Linked DNA regions of Homo sapiens: region 1 is reported to be linked to region 2. Evidence: microRNA targets listed by miRTarBase, many of them from high-throughput screens and not tested one by one. Region 2 holds a microRNA gene; the other region holds the end of a gene's coding sequence.

Region 1 (4,065 bases), not on the chromosome of region 2:
CCCAGAAAATTTATCACTTTTTTTGTGAAATCTTGGCTGTTCTCAAACTTGCCTGTGCAGATACCCACATCAATGAGAACATGGTCTTGGCCGGAGCAATTTCTGGGCTGGTGGGACCCTTGTCCACAATTGTAGTTTCATATATGTGCATCCTCTGTGCTATCCTTCAGATCCAATCAAGGGAAGTTCAGAGGAAAGCCTTCCGCACCTGCTTCTCCCACCTCTGTGTGATTGGACTCGTTTATGGCACAGCCATTATCATGTATGTTGGACCCAGATATGGGAACCCCAAGGAGCAGAAGAAATATCTCCTGCTGTTTCACAGCCTCTTTAATCCCATGCTCAATCCCCTTATCTGTAGTCTTAGGAACTCAGAAGTGAAGAATACTTTGAAGAGAGTGCTGGGAGTAGAAAGGGCTTTATGAAAAGGATTATGGCATTGTGACTGACAGTGACCTAGGAAGTTACATCATTGAGCGGTTCTTAACCCATCTCTGCACTGGTGGGACCTCTGCCCTCAATGGACATGAGAATTATCTGAGACATTTATTTAAAATGGAGCTATCTCCTGCCCTACCTTTAAATGACTGATTTCAGCAGATGTGGGATGAAATTCTAGAAATTGATCTCTTCAAGTTGTGCTGCAGCCACTCCACACCAGGACAATACCCCTTACAATATCCTCATTAGCTTTTGATCCAGTCCCATACCTCCCATAATGTTTTCCTCAAAACACTGGTCCCTTCAGAGGACTTTAAAAATAAGTTCTATAGTCAAATAAGTTTGAGACTTACTTCACATCAGATGCCTCTGTCTAGGGATCACAATTCATATTAGCATAGTGAATGCTGTAAATATTTCTCTAGGAAAGAATAATTCTATACCAGCTTTAAGCCAGTGTTTTCTAAACTTATGTGAGCACATAAAATTTCCTTTGTAATACTTAGTAACAGTTTCCTGGAACAGGAGATCTTGATATTAATTGACTCATTGTGAATACTTCCTACAGCCCCCTTCTAGGGCAGAATGATTTCTTTTTTCCTTGCAAAGTGAGCCTCTAAAGAGATGTAGTTCTGAGCATTATGCCTCGATCAGTCTGTAAAAATCCGGGTTCTGTTTGGATACAGACCGTGAGGGACCCTGTCTCTACTGTTCAATGGTAGATCATCTAAAGAAAATAAATGCAATCCTGTCCTTCATCATGGATCGGCATTCCTGCTATAGAAGCTTCAGGAGATGACCTCATTCAACCTCACAATCTTCTAAATTTGAGATTTTTAAGAAATATGATTCAGTATACATCTTCCTGTGTTTGCCGCTGAATGAAATCAATCTAATTTTTCTAATTCAGGGTTTTCAAGATAAACCCAGATTTCTCAAGAAAGAAAAATCTAGAAAGATTTCAAAATCCACCACCTACACACTTAAAAGTTGTAGCAGCTTCTTATGCCATGGGAAACATGTCATTTTGAGATGATGTTTTTTCTAGGTTTAAGTTTGGTCTTAAACATTTATATTTAATTTCTCATTGTCTTAGTTCAAAGAATTTACTTTTATATTTTAAAATAACTTTTTACACAATAACTCAGTGTCATATCATGTTAGATATAAAACTATGTCCTAAAACTATTTTATCCTTTTTTTTTTTTTTTTTTTTTGAGACAGTCTTGCTCTATAGCCCAGGCTGGAGTGCAGTGGTGCAATCTCGGCTCACCGCAACCTCTGCCTCCTGGGTTGAAACAATTCTCCTGCCTCAGCCTCCTAAGTAGCTGGGACTACAGGCATGTGCCACCACGCATAGCTAATTTTCAGTAGAGACAGGGTTTGTATTTTTAGTAGAGACAGGGTTTCACCGTGTTGGCCAGGCTGGTCTCAAACTCCTGACCTCAGTTGATTCACCTGCCTCGGCCTCCCAAAGTGCTAGGATTACAGGCATGAGCCATCCTGCCCAGCCTATTTTATACTGCTTATACTATTTATATAGTATAAAAATAGTTTTAAAACTATTTTATGGTATACTTTTTATAAAGTAAAAAGTATACTGTAGTATAATTTTTATACTATATACCATATTATATTTTTATAAAGTTGTTTCCATTTGCTACTAACTTTTTCTTTTGTATGTCAGTTTCCTGATTTCTACATTTCCTGCAGGTCACCTGGAACATCAAAAGAAAAAGAAAAGCTGTAATATTGATGGGTGGCCTACTGTGCAACAAGATTTTCATATAGTGTTTTTGGTGTTATATGGATGTTTCTTCTCGCAGTGGATGTGTAGAGTCAGAGCACAGATGGGCATACTCTCAAACCTTAATAACTGTGCCACATTGCCCTTTGAGTTTATTCTAAACCTTAGCAAGTCAGAGATCACACTGTATGGAACTAACTTCTATCTAAATTGCATGATTGATTGATAGGAGATTTCCAAATAACATTTGGACTGCCTTACATCCAGTAAAAGAACTCAGCAAAATACAAATAAATATGATAATATCTTAGACAGCAAATCTTCTCATCCCACAAGAGGCAGGAAACTGCTAGAGGAAGCTGCCTTGGAGAGGATTCTTTCCTCCCCTCCCGAAAGGAGCTGAACTCAAAATCTCTCCATTTCACAATAGACATTGGAGAACATTTTCAACAGTGGATTTGCACCGGTGTTTTGTGTCCTAGAAAAACGTTCCCTTCAGGTAGGTTCTAATAAGCCCCTTGAACAATTTCCCAAATTGATCATCCTGCCTTCAGAACTTCTGAATCTTCCCTTCAAAACACATACACACGCACACACACACACCCACACACATACCCCTAATCTTATTTAACACTGCTGGAAATAAAAATCTATGTTCTAATGAGAACAAACATCAGACAGAATATGATAAAAGCAAGACTATCCTAGAAACTGTGGCTTCTAAGTTAACCATAATACCTTCCCGGTGATGCACTATATAGTTTCACCATCCCCATGGCTTCATGGGCTCCCTTGGGGCTGAATGGGTCACTACATACCTTTCTAACAGGCTTCCCTGTTTCACACTAGACTAGGGGTCCCCAACCCCTGGGCCATGGACCCACACCTGTCTGTGGCCTGTTAGGAACCAGGCCACACAACAGGAGGTGAGTGGTGGGTCAGTAAGCATTACCACCTGAGCTCCGCCTCCTGTCAGATCAGCAGTGGCATTAGATTCTCATAGGAGGGTGAATCCTATTGTGAACTGCCCATGCAAGGAATATAAGTTGTATGCTCCTTACGAAAATCTAACGCCTGATGACCAATCACTGTCTCCCATCGCCCCCAGATAGGACCATCTAGTTGCAGGAAAACAAGCTCAGGGCTCCCACTGATTCTACAGTATAACGAGTTGTATAATTATTTCATTATCTATTACAGTGTAATAATAACTGAAATAAAGTGCACAATAAACGTCATGCGCTTGAATCATTCTGAAACCACCCCCCCTTCCCGCCCCCACCCTGGAAAAACTGTCTTCTATGAAACCGGTCCCTGGTGCCAAAAGGGTTGGGGACCACTGCGCTAGACCATCCTCGTCCATGTAGCATCTTGAAGGACCTCTCCAAAAGCAAATATCCCTATATTCACCTCAAGCCACCTGTATCTACCAACAGCCTACTTTCTTCAAGATCAAAGTCACACTCCTTAGTCATTTCAGACAAGGTCCTTTGTACACATGATGGCTTCATACACTCAGTGCTCCAGCAATGCAGAACTACTTGCAACTGCAGGAATCTAGTTCTTCCATCTGGAAACCTGCCTCCTTCTCTTTACCCTTCCTTGCCCTAGAGCTACTGCTGGCTTTAAAAAGGTGCTCAGGCCGGCACGGTGGCTCACGCCTGTAATCCCGGCACTGGGAGACCAAGGAGGGCGGATCATGAGGTCAGGAGATTGAGACCATCCTGGCTAACATGGTGAAACCTCGTCTCTACTAGAAATACAAAAAATTAGCTGGGTGTGGTGGTGGGTGCCTGTAGTCCCAGCTACTCAGGAGGCTGAGGCAGGAGAATGGCATGAACCTGGGAGGCGGAGCTTGCAATGAGCCGAGATCGCGC
Region 2 (4,066 bases):
TCTGTGATGGGGAACCAGCTGGGGCCTTATGGCATTAGAATCTGGTGGCCATGAGGGACAATGTCCAAGAAGATCAAATTAGACACAAACTGTCTGGGAACTAAACTATCCTACAAATAGACCACAAACAGGCAGCAAAAGAACCAACCCATCACGAAACGTACAAAGACAAAAGGTTAAGTCTTCCAGGAGGCCCTGGAATGTGGACGAAAGTTTGGAAAAGCAAAATGTTGCCAACTCCTCACGCAGGGCCCTGGAGGGACGGGCCGCAGTGGTGGCTTCCCAAGCCAGCAGAGTGGGTGCCTCAGTGACAGCCTAATTCTGGGGCTCCCTCCCATCAGCCACTGAGGGGGTCTTCACGGTAGTGAATGGCACAACGAAGTTTCTCCAGCATGATTTCCAGAGAGGAGTACTGGGGAAGCTTGATCATGAACATGCAGGTCTCCACGCGGATGTAGCGAGAGTCTGGGGAACCTACAAGAAACCGAGCCAGCATCAGAGGGTTGGGCCCACATCTGTGAGGCTCCCAGGGAAGCTGGGCTGGCCTCTGCTTCCAGGTTTGCCTCCTTGGGTAGCCCCAAGCCAATCCTGGGGCCCAGCAGGAGGGGGATGAGGGCCTGGGAACCTGCGAGATGTTCTTGGAGGGAAAAGGGGAGAGAGCTGCTGGACAGCGCATGTGCCAAACTGCTGATGGGTTTGTCTGCCCAGCAAATTGTTTCTTTTTTTTTTTTTTTAACCATTTTTCTGCATTTAAAAGTTAGAAGATTTGAAGCATTCTGGATTTTCAGCTTCTTTTAAGATATGAGAAAGTATCTAACAGCAGGCCTGTATGGCTGGTTCCTGCCGGGCCCTAATCCTCAATGATGTCTGAGTTTTGGCACGTGGGGCTCCTGTTCATTGTTCTCCCTTCACATGGGGCCTGGCAGCCCCAGTTCCAAACAGAGAAAGGCTAGTGTGTCCCTACTTGGGACATGGCCAGGGGAGGGCGGTACCTGCTGTGCCATCTGGGGGGGCGATCTTCATGGGGTACGGGGGCACATGGGCAGTGTCGGGACCCCCATCTTTGCAGGGGCAGGTGAACGGGATGCGCTCCTGGTTGCAGGCAAACTTGATGAACTTGCACAGCTCCTCCTGGGTGAACATCTCCAGGGCCCCCCAGAAGAACTCGATGTGCTGGTCCGTCTCCATCAGCCCCACTTGGTACATGGTGTGGGCCTGGGGAGGAGAGGTCCAGGTGTCAGGAGCCCTGGAGCCCCACCTACCCAGTGCCTCCCCAGCCCTGGGGTCTGCAGGCCAGGCCCAATCCTGGGGCAGGGTGCAACGTGTGGGCTGTGAGCACAGGGAGATGACAATGATGACAATGATACAGGTCTGTGGCAAGGACAGAGCTGAGACAGGCCACTGCCGATGCCTGCTGCTGGAGTTGAGGGTGACAGGGAGGCACGCCTGGGGCTCACCACCTCCCCGCCCAGCCTGGCCCTGGGATGTCTACCTTGAGGAACTCGAGGTTGATGTAGGGGAGGCCGCAGGTGCGCAGCTCCATCTCCAGTGGGCTGAGCATGGTCAGCAGCTGCAGGGGGATGATGGAGCCCAGGCCGGCCCGCACGGCCGTCACGCACTCCACATTCTGCAGCTCCCGCAGCCGCAGGCTCCGGATGGCTGCCGCGTAGATGTCCTTGTTCTCCCACCTGCCCGGGTGAGGAGCACAGGTGAGGGAGAACACCGCCGAAGAGGCTGGGTCTGGGGGCCACACCCACTCAGCTGGAGGTCCCGGATCCTCTCTTGGGAGAGGCCTGGGGCCCAGCCGCCCTGGTCATCCCAGTCCTTTCCTGCCTCTGGTGCCGCCGCCTCAGAGCTGCTGTTTTCTTAGTAAACCCCTTCTGCTGAGGACCCTCTTTCTTGGCACCCACCATCCTGCCTCATCTCCCTCTCCTGGTGAAATCCACCTGTCACCTGACCTAGGTCCTCGTGTCATTGCCCAGGAACAGATGCTGCTGTCATACCCTGGCTGGCTGGCCGGGCCAGCCCCTGCCAGCCCCTGACACGCGCACACACTCACGCCACAAGGATGTGCCGGCCCCGGCTGCACAGCTCCACCTCCTCGCCCGTCATGGTCAGGTAGGTGAACCTGCAGCAGGGCTTGTTGGGGCTGTCAGGGCTCTCCGTGGCCAGGTGCTGGGAGGCGATCTCAGCGCACAGGGCCTCCAGCTCGGTCTCATCATTGATCTGGAGGGTGGAGGCAGAGCGAGGCTCATTATGAGGCCATGGGAGGTGGAACCCTGATCCCCAGGTGGCTGGGTAAACCCCAAGCGCAGCTGGTGGGGTCTACCCTCGGCCGTGTAGATGAGCATGTGACACAGCTTTCGCCAATCAGAACCTGCCATCAGTTCAGGGCCGGGCGTGTGACCCAGGCCAGGCTAAAGAGACCCACATTCCAGGCCTCTTCCCACGTCTGTTTGGAGGCAGCGATCCTCTCTCACTGGCATGGACCGACTATGATGGGAAACCCTTTACCACTGGAGGCCACCTCTGCCCGTGCGCTGGGAGAGACTGCTTGAGGCTAATTATGCTTGCTTTTTTTTTTTTTTGAGACGGAGTTTTGCTCTTGTTGCCCAGGCTGGAGTGCAATGGCGCAATCTTGGCTCGCTGCAACCCCTCGCCTCCTGGGTGCAAGCAATTATCCTGCCTCAGCCTCCCGAGTAGCTGGGATTACAGGCGCCCACCACCATGCCTGGTCAATTTTTGTATTTTTAGTAGAGACTGGGTTTCACTATGTTGGCCAGGCTGGTCTCTAACTCCTGACCTCAGGTGATCTACCTGCCTCAGCCTTCCAAAGCGCTGGGATTACAGGTGTGAGCCACTGCACCCAGACCGCTTTTTCTTTTTTTTTTTTTTGAGACAGATTCTCGCTCTGTCAGCTGGAGTGCAGTGGCGCAATCTCAGCTCACTGCAACCTCTGCCTCCTGGGTTCAAGCAATTCTCTGCCTCAGGCTCCCGAGTAGCTGGGATTACAGGCACCCGCCACCATGCCTGGCTAATTTTTGTATTTTTAGTAGAGACGGGGTTTCACCACCTTGGCCAGGCTGGTCTTGAACTCCTGACCTCGTGATCTACCCGCCTCAGCCTCCCAAAGTGCTGGGATTACAGCTGAGCCACCGCGCCTGTCCTCTTTCTTTTTTTTTTTTTAAAGCAATCTGGATCAGAGGCCTGAGACCAATACCAGATGATACTGTTTGAACACCTGGATTTGGCCCTGCCTGAAGTCAAACCCATCATGCTTTTTGTTTTAAGAGCAACTAATTTTTTTTTTTTTTTTTTTTGAGATGAAGTCTTGCTCTGTCGCCCAGGCTGGAGTGCAGTGGCGCGATATCAGCTCACTGCAAGCTCCGCCTCTCGAGTTCACACCATTCTCCTGCCTCAGCCTCCCAAGTAGCTGGGACTACAGGCGCCCGCCACCATGCCTGGCTAATTTTTTGTATTTTTAGTAGAGACGGGGTTTCACTGTGTTAGCCAGGATGGTCTCAATCTCCTGACCTCGTGATCTGCCCACCTTGGCCTCCCGAAGTGCTGGGATTACAGGCGTGAGCCACCGCGCCCGGCCTAAGAGCAACTCATTTTAAACAATTTTTTTCTAAAGCTTGTTGGAGTTGGGATTTCTGTCCCTTGCCACCAGACAGCCCTGACTTAGTCCTGTCTGTGGAGGTGTACAGGCTGTCGCCTCCCCACATATGGCGACCAGGATCAGCGTCCAGGGGAAACTGATTCGCACTGTGCTTGCTGGGCTACCAGGGAGACGACAGGGTCGGACCCAAAGGAGACTGACTGCAGCTTGGGGACAGTGACAGGTGGATGGACATTCGGGTCTAAGCCTGGAGTCTCCTTAGTAGCAACCTCCCTACCCCTTCACCGCAGACACTCCACTGATACAAGTCGAGAGCACTTCTTCCTAGTATGCACCCCACAACACCATGTGGTTCTGCATCCCATACCCTCTGGGGCCTTGGCCATCCCTGTAGCCAGAAGCCTCAGCTGGCCTGTCTACCGGGACCCCGCCTCACATCCCCTG

Evidence for each region. The annotated mature microRNA hsa-miR-6861-5p reads ACUGGGUAGGUGGGGCUCCAGG and lies in region 2 at 1,246-1,267, opposite strand. An mRNA with a match to its seed (bases 2 to 7 or 8) in the 3' UTR can be bound and repressed. Matches are read on the target gene's strand: a 7mer-m8 pairs with bases 2 to 8, a 7mer-A1 pairs with bases 2 to 7 and ends in A, and an 8mer does both.
Region 1: miRTarBase lists OR2A4 as a target of hsa-miR-6861-5p. The part of its 3' UTR that is shown has no 7-base or 8-base seed match.

Annotation. Positions count from the first base shown.
Region 1 is chr6:131,696,829-131,700,893 of GRCh38, reverse strand. OR2A4 (olfactory receptor family 2 subfamily A member 4) reads left to right here. Exons shown (of 1, transcript NM_030908.2): 1 at 1-1,250. The coding sequence ends at 425. The region is part of intron 15 of ENPP3 (ectonucleotide pyrophosphatase/phosphodiesterase 3); the gene reads right to left. Among named protein-coding and RNA genes, the nearest start is that of OR2A4, 2.5 kb to the left of the region's middle. RefSeq lists an enhancer at 1-393.
Region 2 is chr12:112,162,050-112,166,115 of GRCh38, forward strand. It overlaps MIR6861 (microRNA 6861), which reads right to left and starts at 1,272; the gene lies at 1,209-1,272. HECTD4 (HECT domain E3 ubiquitin protein ligase 4) reads right to left here. Exons shown (of 76, transcript NM_001388303.1): 73 at 2,060-2,226; 74 at 1,493-1,688; 75 at 993-1,215; 76 at 1-474. The coding sequence ends at 338. RefSeq lists an enhancer at 3,899-4,066.